4 linked regions of the Homo sapiens genome follow. The protein of the gene in region 1 purifies or fractionates together with the protein of each later gene. This does not show direct contact. Each region holds a gene or a part of one and is shown on either strand. Other genes may lie near its edges.

Region 1 (4,087 bases):
AGAGCAACACACTAAAGGAGAACTCAGGGCTTTGATCATTTGCCTGGCTGAGCCATAGGGCTGGCTCTGAGATGCCTGTGTTCCAAACACTTATTCAACCACATATAAAACTCATAGCATGTTCAATGTTACTCTTGGGACACTTGGTCAATTTCAGAATTCCAGAGCAACTGTGAACCTTCTTGGAATGATTTTATCTCTAAGGCAGGCAGGAGGCAGGGCAGTTTGAAAATAGAGCATGAGATTTGAAGTCAGATAGAGCTGGGTTTGAATCTGCATTCTGCCTCTTACAAATAAGTGAGCCTTTAAAAATGTAAGTCATCCTGGGCATGGTGGCTCACACCTGTAATCCCAGCACTTTGGGAGGCTGAAGCGGGCAGATCACCTGAGGTCAGGAGTTGGAGACCAGCCTGACCAACATGGTGAAACCCCATCTCTACTAAAAATACAAAAATTAGGCGGGCATGGTGGCGCATGCCTGTAATCCCAGCTACTTAGGAGGCTGAGGCAGGAGAATCGCTTGAACCCCAGAGTCAGAGGTTGCAGGGAGCCGAGGTCGCACCACTGCAGTCCAGCCTGGGCAACAGAGTGAGAGTCCGTCTCAAAAAAAAAAAAAAAAAAAAAGGTAAGTCAGATCGCATTCCTTCTCTGCTCAACCCCCACCCAGGGTTTCCGTCTCACTTGGAGTAAAAGCCCAAGTCCTCTCCAAGGTGGGTAAGACCTCCACAATCTGATCCCCTCCTCAGCCTCTCAGATCTGTCTCCTTCTAACTCTCCCTTGATCATTCCACTGGAGCCCTCCTTGCTCTTCTTCAACTCACCAACTGTGCTTATACCTCTGGGGCATTGCATGTTCTGTTTCTGGAATATTCTTCACCCAGAAAGGCTCCATCACTTCCTTCAGTCTCTCTAATGATTGTACCTTCTCAGAGCAACCTTCCCTCATCACCCTGGCAAAGACAGGATCCTCTGCCCCCCAACTCCCATCACTGTCTAGCCTGTTCCCAGCTAGTCTTCATGCCCCTAACCACCTCTTAAACGTGGTGGCCATGAGGATGCACCTCTCAGATCTCCAACTGCAGGAGTACGACTGGAGAAATTGATCAGCGGCTCAGCTGCTGTGCTCTGAAGTCCATCACTGCTCTCATGGGCTGCTCCCAGCCAATGACTGAGTGTGGCAGGGAGACCGAAGCCCACCCATGTCTGGGGGACCTCTGTCAAGAGACTTTGGCCAAGGGCTCCTTAACAGCCTTGACAAACTTTCCTTAGAATGGCACGGCAGCTGGGCGCAGTGGCTCACGCCTGTAATCCCAGCACTTTGGGAGGCCAAGGCGGGCGAATCACAAGGTCAGGAGTTCAAGACCAGCCTGGCCAACATGGTGAAACCCCGTCTCTACTAAAAATACAAAAATTAGCTGGGCGTGGTGGCGCATGCTTGTAATCCTAGCTACTCAGGAGGCTGAGGAAGGAGAATTGCTTGAACCCGGGAGGCGGAGGTTGCAGTGAGCCAAGACTGCGCCACTGCACTCCAGCCTGGGCAACAGAGCAAGACTCTGTCTCAAAAAAAACAAAATAAAACAGAACAACAACTACAAAAAAAAAATACGGCATGGCAGTCCAAGACACGTCCTCCTTTTATTCCTTTCTTCTTCCTTCCTTTCTTCCTTCCTTTTCTTTTTCATTAGTGGACAGAGGTACCCCACTATCTGATGGCTCTCCTGTCCTCTCCTGGTTTCTTCCCATTTTCTCTCATAGCCATTTCCTCCAATAAATTTCTTGCACATTTAATGCTATGGGAGTCTGCTTCTCAAAGGACTTGAACTATCTCAGGGTATGCTGAAGTTAAGTATGAAAAAGAAAAGAAAAAATAAAAAAGGACCTGGACTAATGCACCTAATGTATTACCTGTTGATTTGTTTATTATCCATCTGACCAATAGGATATGAGATATGACAGTAAGGTCCCCATTTAGTCTGCTGGATGCCCCCAGATTTCCCGTCTAAACAATAGCTATAAATAGGCCAGGTGCAATGGCTCATGCCTGCAATCCCAGCACTTTGGGAAGCTGAGGCAGGCGGATCACCTGAGGTCAGCAGGCGGATCACCTGATGTCAGGAGTTTGAGACAAGCCTGGCCAACATGGTGAAACCCTGTCTCAACCAAAAATACAAAAATTAGCTGGGCGTGGTAGTGGGTGCCTGTAATCCCAGCTACTTGGGAGGCTAAGGCAGGAGAATTGCTTGAACTCAAGAGGCAGAGGTTGCAGTGAGCCAAGATTGCCCCACTGCACTCCAGCCTGGGCAACAGAGTGAGATCCTGTCTCAAAACAAAAACAAACAAACAAAAAGAAAACCAATAGCTATAAATATATGTTTAAACTGAGAAGGGTGATGCACATTTGCTCGCTTCTGCTGGGAGAGGAGCAGTCTTTCCTTGGCTGCCGCTGAGTGGAAGTTTCCCCCTCCAGACAGGACATGGTGGCCAGTTCACCACCAGGGCCACTTTTCACTTTAACCTGCCGTGGTACTGAGAGATCAGCTGCCCCCAAACCTGTCCTCCACAAATGGAATCCTCAAAGCCTCAGTAACACAGGCGCTGATCCTTTTACATTTTTTTTATAATTGACAAAGCTCCAGGTCTCAGTTTCTTTTATTTTTTGAAGGGTATGTATTTTATTTTTAAAATGACCTTTTACCACCTAGTAAAACATTAGTGCATCCTTCTTGTTAAAAATTAAACCATTAGAGGCCAGGTATGGTGGCTCACATCTGTAATACCAGCACTTTGAGAGGTCAAGACAGGAGGATCGTTTGAGCCGAGGAATTTAAGACCAGCCTGGGCAACATGGCAAGACCCCATTTCTACCAGAATTTTTTTTTATTAGCTGGGTGTGGTGGCATGTGCCTGTGATCCCAGCTACTCAGGAGGCTGAGGTGGGAGGATCGCTTGAGCGCAGGAGGTTGGGGCTGCATGAGCCATGATAGCATCACTGCACTCCAGCCTGGGAGACAGAGCGAGACCCTGTCTCAAAAAGAAAAAGAAAAAAAAAAGAGAGAGAGAGAGAGAAGCAAGAAAGAAGAAGAAGGAGGAGGAGGAGGAAGGGAAAGAAGAAAGAAAGAAAGAAAGAAAAAAGAAAGAAAGAGAGAGAGAGAAAGAAGAAAGGAAGGAAGAGAAGAAGAAAGTGGAGGAGGAGGAAGAGGAGGAGGAGAAGGGGGGAAGGAAAGAAGGGAAAGAAGAAAGAAAAGAAAAGAAAGGAGGGAGGGAGGGAAGGAAGGAAGGAAGATTAAAACATTACAGATACATTTAAGACACTCTTGGATTACTCATTCTATAAGCCCTCCATGGCCACCTCTTTCCCCACCCAGATATCCTCTGCCAGCATTTGGCCTCAGCCTCTGCCTCTGCATTTACACACATGTATGTTGAAGCAGAGGCTGTCAGTGCCCTGCCTCTATCACTCTGCCCTTTACCATTTCTGCACATTCTGGCTGGACTTCCAGCTGCCGGCACCTTCATCTCTTTGTCTGAGAGATTTCTCTGTGGCTATTGGTGCCTGCTCTGCCCATGGGCTTGGCAAGCCGAAAGTGCTAGAGAATTATCACATCCCCAGGAGTAGTTTTCAACAAAAGACAGGAGCGAGAACAGGGTGGACAAATACCCCGGTTCCCTCACCTCTCAAGCCTGTTCTACCCTGGCTCCCAGAGCTCCTCAGTGGGATTGAGCTCCAGGTGCCCGCAGTGGTAACTGGGCTTAGAAGACACCTTTAATGACTACCTCCTGTTCCCTGCCTCACTTCCTTACTCCCCTAGGAGGGTCTCTGGAATCAGCTCTCAAACTATTTGCATTTGAAACCTTGCCTAGGGTCTGCTTCTGGAGAAACTCAAACTAAGACATATACGCCATGATGGACTAGTGTGTGTATGTGTGTGTGTGTGTGTGTGTGTGTGTGTGTGTGTTTTGACATAAAAGGAATTGTGCTGCAGGAATCATGAGTAGTATCCTCCTCAGTTCTCCCCCTTTTTTTTTTTTTTGACAGAGTCTTGCTGTTGTCAGCCCAGGCTGGAGTGCAGTGGCAAGACCTTGGCTCA
Region 2 (3,500 bases), on another chromosome or scaffold:
ACAAAAGCATCTCTAAAAATGTCATTTACTGGACTTGACAGTATAATCTTTTCGGCTTTTCAATTGCAGGTATCATACAGATCATTTTATTTTATTAACTTTTTAAGCACTTGGCTCAAGCAACTTTGGAAGAAGGCTTTGTGAGCTTACAAATCTTATTCCAAGTGTTATTTTTTAAACAGTTACAACTAAAACGAGGTCTTACCTTTTCAAAAGAGGAGAATAAAGTTTTTCTTTTATAAAAATTGCTCCCCAAACTCACAAACACCCAAACCGACATAAAAAGTTGGTCTATCTTCTTAGGAATCAATAAGAAGTGAGGTTACAGGGGAGAGGGAGGAACAAGCATGACGGTTCCTGTGAAATCCATCCCACCGAGCAGTCACTCTTATGTTTCCAGTTTGGCCCTCGGGAGTTTTCCTAAAGGAAAACTCAGTCATCTAAGCCTATGTTTCTGAAAAGGTAGGACATGGACTCCCCATTGTGGATCCGACGGATCGCCTCTGAAAGGATCATGCTGATATCCACAGTTTTAATCTTGGGGCACTGGAGCTTCTGGACTTCATGTGGAATTGTATTGGTGACCACCACCTGTGAAGCAAAAGAAAAAAAACCACAGCATCAGAAAGCCAAGTAGCTTCATGGTTTGATCTGGAAATGTGACAGCTTCTCAAATCTGAGGCTTGCCACGACAGGAAAACACAGTGGATCTATGTCTCAAGTCAATGTTTCAATTATTTATTTATTTATTTATTTTTAGACGGAGTCTTGCTCTGTCGCTCAGCCTGGAGTGCAGTGATGCCATCTCAGCTCACTGCAAGCTCTGCCTCCTGGGTTCATGCCATTCTCCTGCTTCAGCCTCCCAAGTAAGCTGGGACGACAGGCGCCCGCCACCACGCTCAAGTAATTTTTTTGTATTTTTAGTAGAGACGGGGTTTCACCGCGTTAGCCAGGATGGTCTCGACCTCCTGACCTCATGATCCACCGGCCTCGGCCTCCCAAAGTGCTGGGATTACAGGCGTGAGCCACCGCGCCCAGCCTGTGTTTCTTAGGTTAAGATTTGATAACCTCACACCCACTAGGATAGGTATGGCAAAAAAGATAATAACAAGTACTGGAGGGATGCAGAGAAACTGGAGCCCCCCCCCAACTCACGGCTGTGGGAATGTAAAATGGCGCAGCTGCTTTGAAAAACAGTCTGGCAGCTCCTTGAAAGTTTAAACATGAAGTTACTGTATGACCTGGCAGTTCTAAACCTAGGTACGTATCCAAGAGAAGAGAAAACACATGTCCACACAAAAACTTGTACACAAATGTTTACTGCAGCACCATTCATAAGTTAAAAAGTAGAAAAAAAATTTTTTCTATCAACATGAAATACGAAGAGAGAGACAAAATGTGGACTATCCATGTAACACAGCATTATTTGATCATAAAATGAAGTATTGATTCATGCTCCAACATGGATGAACCTTGAAAATATTATGTTGAGTGAAGACAGCCAGACACAAAAGACCACACATTGTATAATCTCATTTATATGAAATGTCCAGAACAGGCAAATCTAGAGAGACAGAAAGCAGATTAGTGGTTCCCAGGGACTAATGGCAGTGAGAGAAAATGTGAAGTGACAGCTAATGGGTATGGGGTTCCTTTCTAGGAAGAAGAAAATGTTCTAAAACCAACTATGGTAATGACTGCACAACTCTGAACATTCTAAAAACCAATGAGTTGTACACATTATTATTATTATTATTATTATTATTATTATTTGAGACAAGAGTCTCATTCTGTCACCCAGGCTGGAATGCAGTGGCACAATCTCGGCTCACTGCAGCCACTGCCCTCTGGGTTCCAGTGATTCTCTTGCCTCAGCCTCCCAAGTAGCTGGGATTACAGGTGTGTGCCACCACGCCCGGCTAATTTTTGTATTTTTAGTAGAGACGGGGTTTCACCCTGTTGGCCAGGCTGGTCTCCAACTCCTGACCTCAGGTAATCCACCTGCCTCGGCCTCCCAAAGTGCTGGGATTACAGGCGTGAACCACTGCACCCAGCCCTTGAATCGTTTCTCAGCCACAAAAGATCTCAGTCTTGTCCTGACTCTCTGTAACTAAAGATCAAGATGTGCCAAAAGCCCAGGCAGCTGTACCCACACACACCCAGACCCTGTTACCTCATCAATGGCAGACTCTTCAATCCGCCGGGGGGCGTCAGAAGACAACAAGCCATGAGTTGCCATCACAAAGATCTTATATGCACCTCTTTCCTTCAGGGTCTCTGCTGCAGCAAGAAAGCTGTCAACATCATCAATGATGTCATCCTGCCAAAGCACAGATGGAAAAGAATGTATATGAGCACTTCTACAATAATAGGTTAGACAACCAGGAAAAAAAAAGGGTCTGCCTACATTTACCGTGAAAAATCTGCTCTTCCACTTGGCCTTGTGCAGACGGCATGGCCCCATGTCCCCATCACCGTGCCCCATGGCAGCCCTCCAGTACTTTCACACGAGCCTCTTCCTGCACAGCACCTGCCACTATTGGAGCTATCTCCCACCACACTCCAGGCTCCCAGGGGTAGCACTGTTTTCTGCACCATAACTGGCCAACATTGTGCTGTCACAATGCAGGTCACACCAGAAATGATGGAGGTATAATTTTCTTTTTTTGTTTTTAATGCACAGAAAAAGTGTTAAAAGATGTTTTTGACTCTGGGTAATAGAATTATGGGTGCCTCTTTCCCCCCACTTCTTCTTGCTACTTTCCTTATTTCCAAATTTTCTCCACTGAGCATATGGGAAATATGTTTTTTTACATGTTATTACAATGGAAAAAATAATAATGATTATTGTTTTTAATAATAAAATACCCAGTTCAGTGGTTTCCAATCTAGAGACTAGATTCCCAGGCTCCCAGAGTTATTTTAAACCCATTATGGCATCAAACGTTGTCTAGAGTTGAATAAATATTCGTGTCTTTATTTTACATACATATTATTACTCTTTAATTGCATACTGATGTTACTATGATCAAAAATATACATATAAAGGCCAGGCGTGGTGGCTCATGCCTGTAGTCCCAGCACTTTGGGAGGCTGAGGTGGGAGGATTGCTTGAGCTCAGGGGTTCAAGACCAGCCTGAGCAACATGACGAAACCCAGTCTCTACAAAAACAGAAAAGCAAAAATTAGCCATGCATGGAGGTACGCACCTGTAGTCCTAGCTACTTGGGAGGCTGAGGCAGGAGGATTGCTTTAGCCAGGAGGTAGAAGTTGCAGTGATCTGTGATCAAGCCACTGCACTCCAACCTGGGCAGCAGACCCAGACCATACCTCAAAAAAAATACATACACACACACACACGCTACTTTAAAAGTCCTACTAGTAAAATGGTACAGCCACTTTGGAAAACAGTTTGACAGTCTCTTATAAGAGTATATCTGCAACTACCATGCAAACCAACAACTGCATTTGTAAGTGCAATTATCCCAGAGAAATTAAAA
Region 3 (3,500 bases), on another chromosome or scaffold:
TCCACCCAGTAGCCATCACTGAGGTGGATTTCAGAGAGCACCTGATTGATCCCTGCTGAGCTATGCAAAGCATGTTTGTTCTTGGGAGGGCCTTGACTCTCCCACCGGCATCTGGCATCTCACTGGCTCCTGGCAATACTGGCCTTTTCCTGTTCTCAGACAGAAAGGTGCTTCCCCTCAGCTTGGTCTAGGACTTAGGGAAAGCATTCATATTTTCTTTTCCAAAACTATTTCTATTTCTCTGTGGCCCATCCTCGCCTCTGAGTGCTCTGAGGTGGAACCCGATGCCCTGCACCAGGAGGCTCCCTCTTCCAGCCTGACTTTTGGTCCATTTCCTCCACACCTAGCTCTCCAGGCACAGGGGGCGTCAGCCTTCCCAGCCTTACCTTAACTCTGCCCACTGTCCCTCTTACAGCACGGGACGTCCTCATCGTTCTGCGAGCCCTCCCGGCTCTCTCACCCACGGAGCCATTCGCCTTTGTGTGGCCACTGTAAGCCCCACACACCTGGACTTACTCTCACAGGAAACTGCTCAGAAGCCTGCCTCCTGTCTTGGCGATGTACAAACGCCCAGGCCCAGTAGAGGCTCCGGAGACGCCCGTGCTGCGGATCCACCTTGCTGCTCCCTGACACACGGGGAGCCTCCCCTCCCTGCCATCTGTGATGCAAGCAAAGAGCCCCTTGGCAGGAAACCCAGGCTGTGGCCCTGCCATGAAGCGCCACACCAGCTGCCTGCAGCTGTGGGCCTCTGTCATCTCGCATCATCCTCATGGAGCCACGGGAAGGTAATGAGAGGAACTAGGACTGCAGTGTGAAGACCCTGGGCACACAGAGTTCTCACTTGGGTCAGCCAATTGGAAGGCAGCTGGGAGGGCCAGGAGAAGGCGACAAAGTGGCAGGGGGTGGAGGTGGGGTTACCAAGGGAGCAGGGCCCCCGCTGCAGCTTCCTCTGTTCTGGCAGGTGAGGCCTACTCCCGTGCCCTCTGGTGCCTAAGTGAGCCACGATATTGGTAGTCCAAGGTGAGCACATTCCTGATGCCAAGTCATATTTAAAAATAAAATCCAAGCTTTGCATCCCTTTTGAGAAAGACCTGGACGATCTCCCCATCTGCTCGGGTTTCATTTGGGGAACAGCGGAGAGCCACAATGGCAGGCTGCAGCCACACCCGCTGCAGCGAGCAGACACACATGGCCAGGTCTCAGGCCCAAGAGCCCGGCCGGGATGTAGATGGAACTACTCTCTCTCCGTCGCTCAGGGCAATGCCCTCTGGGCTCCTACCCTTCATAACTCCTTCTCCTGAGTCCTCCATAAAGAACCCTGGAGAATGGGGTGCCTTCACCACACATTCACCAGAGTGTCCTCTGCAAACTCGACCACTGCGGCCACATCTTATTTCTGTTAGGATCTTAAGAGCAAGGACTGTTCTTTTTCCCGCATTTATCTCTGAAATTGTCTCCACATTTATCTCTGCTCAGGACAGGGCTGGTACATGGTAGATGCTTCAGGAAATATTTGCTGAGCTAAAATGAAGGATCTGGAGTTTAGAGGACTCCTGTGGGCTTGCGCTTCAGACTAACCCCTTGGGAAGGGAAAACTTAAGTAACAGTTTCCCCTGCTTGGCTAAACCCAGGGAACAAAGATTCTGGGGTCAAGAGAGGATTCTCTGTGCAGCGCTGGGGGCGGGGGCAGGAGCTTCCTGCTAGGCACACCAAGTCTCGGGAGGTGTAGAGACCCACCTCTTGGCCAGCAGTTTGTTCATTTCCTCCATGAGGCCTCCTCCGCCACCCCCGCTGCTTGCCCGGTTGGCATCGGACTTTGAGGTCCCACTGGGACTGGAGCCTCCAGATGCGTCTTCTGGCTGAGGAAAAAGGAGGCCGCGTTTTAGATTCTGCTGCTGATGGCAGAACAGGAGCAGCAACGATGTGAGGGGATGCAGGGGACTGTGTGCGTGTGAATCCTATGGCAGCAGCACTGCAAGGGGCCTCAGGGGCCATCTGGTCCATTATTCTCCAACCCCACAGGGGAGAAAACCAGAATCGAGAGAGGGACAAGGACCAGCCCAGGTCACACAAGTCGCAGACACTCCCCAGGCCTGCAGACTCATGGTTAGTGTCTTTGCCAAGACCAGCCATGACACATGGAGGGAGGGAGGGAGGGGAGAAGAGACTATCCTGTGGGAAGGAAACACAATGTAAGCCAAAGGTCTGTATTAGAGCTATTCTTACAAGCACAGTTCTAGAACATATGAGCAAGGGTTAGGGAAGAAACAGCCGGGTGGACCTAGTTGCCAGCATACAGCTTCCTACAGTGGAAAGGGCAATGGACATAGATTCAGGAGACCCAGGCTTGAGTCCAAAATCTGCAATTTGTAAACGGTGTGACTTGAGCAAATTACTCGTGCTCTTTGTGCTTCAATTTCCTCATCTCTAAAGGGGGACATAGTTCTTGCCCCACGTGTGAAGGTCAACGTGAGGCTCAAAGGCTAACTTCATAATTTCAAAGTGCTGTCCCATGTGATTTCTCGTTTGAGAACAAGTGGCCAAGGGCCAGCTAGCTTTGGGCAGGGAAGCAGTTTGCTGTGTCTCGCAGATGCGGGAAGGAACACAAGCGCTCTGCAGATGGCACAAGGGTCCCCTCGGTCCCATTCCCACCCCGCACACAGGAGCTCTTACCCGTTGGACTCTTCTCAGCTTGGCCCCAGCTATGGCAGCGGCCAGTCCTGACATGGAGCTCTCGTCGTGGCTGGACCCCTGGGCTCCTCCGGCTGGCAGTGGGGGTGGGGGAGGTGGGGTAGCCCCAGTGGGTGGAGGTGGGACTGGGGGTGGGGGGGGCGGTGGAGGCCCACTACATGAGACGGGGGCGCTGGCTGCAGATGAAGGATGTCCTGGTGGGAGGATGGGCCCTGAAACACAACAGTGAGGCTCAGCCAGCTCCAGCACCCAGCTGGGGGCCAAGCCTGCTGCTCTCAGCTCAGGTTCCCCGGAGGAAGGACAGGGGCAGGCTGCTCCCCAAAGGGATGAGAAACAGCTCCAGGCCTGCTTCATCCAGGAAGCCTCCGCGGGATGAACTTGGCTCTGGCACAATTATTCCCTATTCTGGTGTCCTCAGTACTCCGGGGCCTGGCTGGACCCACAGGTGTCCTCTATTTGCTTAACATTCCTTGAGCCCAGGCAATTTCCTCTTGCTCCAATCATGTTTTTCCAGGGGGAGAGGAAGCTGTCTGGTTACAGTCTGTGCCTCTTCTCTTCTCTGCTCCTTCTAAGCACCTAGCACCCCCTAGGCAGAAGTTGGTCACCAAGATCCAACTGTGACTGACACTTGGGTCGTTGGGGGCCGTGGCAGGTCCTGTGGGTCCCAGGGCCGACTGGGGGCATGGGTCAGGGCGCAATGCCGAGTGCTGGGCTCCAGCATCATCCATCCAGCCCCTTCCGCCAGTGCTGCCTAAGCCTGTTTTGTGCCAGGCACTGTGCTAGGTGCTGGGTATGGTGCTGAGGAAAAC
Region 4 (2,178 bases), on another chromosome or scaffold:
GAAGCCAAAAATCAGAACCCTACATTTAAAGTTCATAATAAAAGATCCACCCGAGTATAACCAATAATATTTGGTTTAGATATTTTATAGCTTTTCTACCTTTTTAGGAAATTTAGAGTGTTTTATTAAGTTGACCAGAAGTGTGGTATTATCAATATTATTTTGAAACTATTCAAAAATTCCTACTGGTTAAAAAGCTTTTTTTTTTTTTTAAATTGTGCTGAGGCTATGCCATTTTCTCCCTCTCTGAAGAAAGTATGTACCTTTTAGATACAGATTAACAGTAACAAATGGCCACTGAGCACTGCTTTTTTTCCTTTATGGAAACTTCTCATGTTCATGCAGACTAGCTACAACAGCTTCTTAAAAAAAGATACTTTTTGGCCACCAAACTACCTCTTTGGCATCCAAGGTAATGCAGGAAAACTTTGACCCAAAGTATTCCCATATATTATTTGCATTAAGCATGTCACTTATGAAATGAGAAGTGATCTCAAGGATTTTAGTGCTGAATCCTCAACTAAAATTTTATTTCCTTGTGCTGAATAGAACACATACAGATCCATATTAAAAACAGTCATCATATTAGGCAAATTCAATCTGTCAATGTAGTTTTAGTCCAGAACCAAACCAGTGATAGTTAGGAATTACAGAGTTACCAACCAAACTGATTTGCTTTCCTGGTGGTTCTTTGTGTAACAGATGAGAGAAATAAAGTGGCAGAGTACCAGTGAACATTTGGAGAAAATACCTAATTATTTTCTTCCTAACCCAAGTTAGCCACTGAATAGTCATCTCAGAATAGTCACCTCATCCCAGTTGGCCCATTAGGTTCCTGTGTGCTTCATCTTCTGTGAGAAAAAAAAACCTTATATCATTCCTTATTTCAGATGTAAGATGCCAGGTGAGTTATTTTCCACAAATTTCTTAAGCTCATTACTGGAAAAAAAAATTTCTCAAAACTTTTAGTAATGAATGAGTGTACAAGCAGCAATTGGATATTAATCCCATGGTGCAAGGATTTCCTGCAAAGTACCTTTAATGTGTTTAAATCAGCAGCAAGCATTAGGACATGCTATTTTGGCCCCATAAGTTAGGTGTGTAGCACTACACATTAGACACCAAGTCATCCCAACCAATATTTATCCATATGAACAGATAAACTGAACAAAAACATAGTTCTGATAAAACCTGCATTCACAACCTAATGTAGTTTAAAGTAAATTTTTTCACAATTGAGGGCTGCTATTTAGGACTGTTTTGTTAATAATAAAAACAGGAATTATATAGAAGATAAAACACCATTTTTTACTGCTATATAATGTCTTGCTATATAAAACATACCCTCAACAAGTCAAAATATTTAAAACCAGTGTTTCAAATACCAAAAATCACAGCTATGTTACTGTTCAGTAACTCCACTCAAATAAATGTTAGTACTGCATTCTTGAAGGAAAAAAACTGCAGCCAAGGCAAGAACTCTGAAGTTTGCACTCAGAGTTTAAAAGACAGACCCCTACTCTGCAAACTGAAGACTGCCACTCTGCTTCAATAACTCCAGCCTGCCACATTTTACTTCAATTGGTAAAGCACTCTGCTGAGAATATAAAAAGTTATAAAAAGGCAATCATAAAAGATTAAATATTGGTAGGCATGTAAGCTTCCTTTTAATAAAAACAAAAATAGTCAATGTCATCTATTTAAATAAGTATCCTTTGTTATAGAGTGTTCCAGTTATTGAAAAAGGGCCCTTAAAAAACCCAACTGTCTACATCTTTAAACCCTACCCCTTTTACCCCATAGTACACATTTGAGGGAAGAGTCATTTAATGTGCAAATTGGCAAAACAAATGTGGAGGAGAGGGGACTTCTTGAAATGATGTGCCCAATCAATTCTTGGTTTATTCTTTTCCAAAAAGTAAAATAACCAAAGTCTTAAAAGTACACAAAACAGACCTTCATCTTTGCATTCCTTTCCAAATAAACCCAAAAAGTATGTACAGCATGTTTAATAGTATGCAATATGCAAAAGCTTTGTGTTGCTGTTAGCAACATCTATACCCACCCACCCTCTTTATTCACAAGTGTACCTCTACTAACCATAATTACATCACTAAGCCTGTTAGTTTGAGAGGGTCTTAAATTTGTTAAAACTGGAAAATCTTTGTATAGGGGCTC

The links. Proteins that work in one complex are often made in the same cells at the same time.
Region 2: the proteins of HCK (region 1) and PRPSAP2 purify together in Homo sapiens (affinity purification with mass spectrometry; one large-scale study listed by BioGRID and IntAct). This does not show direct contact.
Region 3: the proteins of HCK (region 1) and EVL purify together in Homo sapiens (pull-down; one study listed by IntAct). This does not show direct contact.
Region 4: the proteins of HCK (region 1) and IVNS1ABP purify together in Homo sapiens (affinity purification with mass spectrometry; one large-scale study listed by BioGRID and IntAct). This does not show direct contact.

Annotation. Positions count from the first base shown.
Region 1 is NC_000020.11:32,058,474-32,062,560, reverse strand, and holds part of HCK (tyrosine-protein kinase HCK), read right to left. Parts: intron 1-4,087. UniProt on the Homo sapiens protein: Non-receptor tyrosine-protein kinase found in hematopoietic cells that transmits signals from cell surface receptors and plays an important role in the regulation of innate immune responses, including neutrophil, monocyte, macrophage and mast cell functions, phagocytosis, cell survival and proliferation, cell adhesion and migration.
Region 2 is NC_000017.11:18,927,631-18,931,130, reverse strand, and holds part of PRPSAP2 (phosphoribosyl pyrophosphate synthase-associated protein 2), read right to left. Parts: intron 2,321-3,500; coding exon 2,174-2,320; intron 592-2,173; coding exon 433-591; 3' UTR 1-432. UniProt on the Homo sapiens protein: Seems to play a negative regulatory role in 5-phosphoribose 1-diphosphate synthesis.
Region 3 is NC_000014.9:100,127,922-100,131,421, reverse strand, and holds part of EVL (ena/VASP-like protein), read right to left. Parts: intron 2,904-3,500; coding exon 2,674-2,903; intron 1,860-2,673; coding exon 1,738-1,859; intron 1,091-1,737; exon of another isoform or gene 962-1,090; intron 786-961; exon of another isoform or gene 1-785. UniProt on the Homo sapiens protein: Ena/VASP proteins are actin-associated proteins involved in a range of processes dependent on cytoskeleton remodeling and cell polarity such as axon guidance and lamellipodial and filopodial dynamics in migrating cells.
Region 4 is NC_000001.11:185,295,888-185,298,065, forward strand, and holds the end of IVNS1ABP (influenza virus NS1A-binding protein), read right to left. Parts: coding exon 2,148-2,178; 3' UTR 501-2,147; downstream 1-500. UniProt on the Homo sapiens protein: Involved in many cell functions, including pre-mRNA splicing, the aryl hydrocarbon receptor (AHR) pathway, F-actin organization and protein ubiquitination.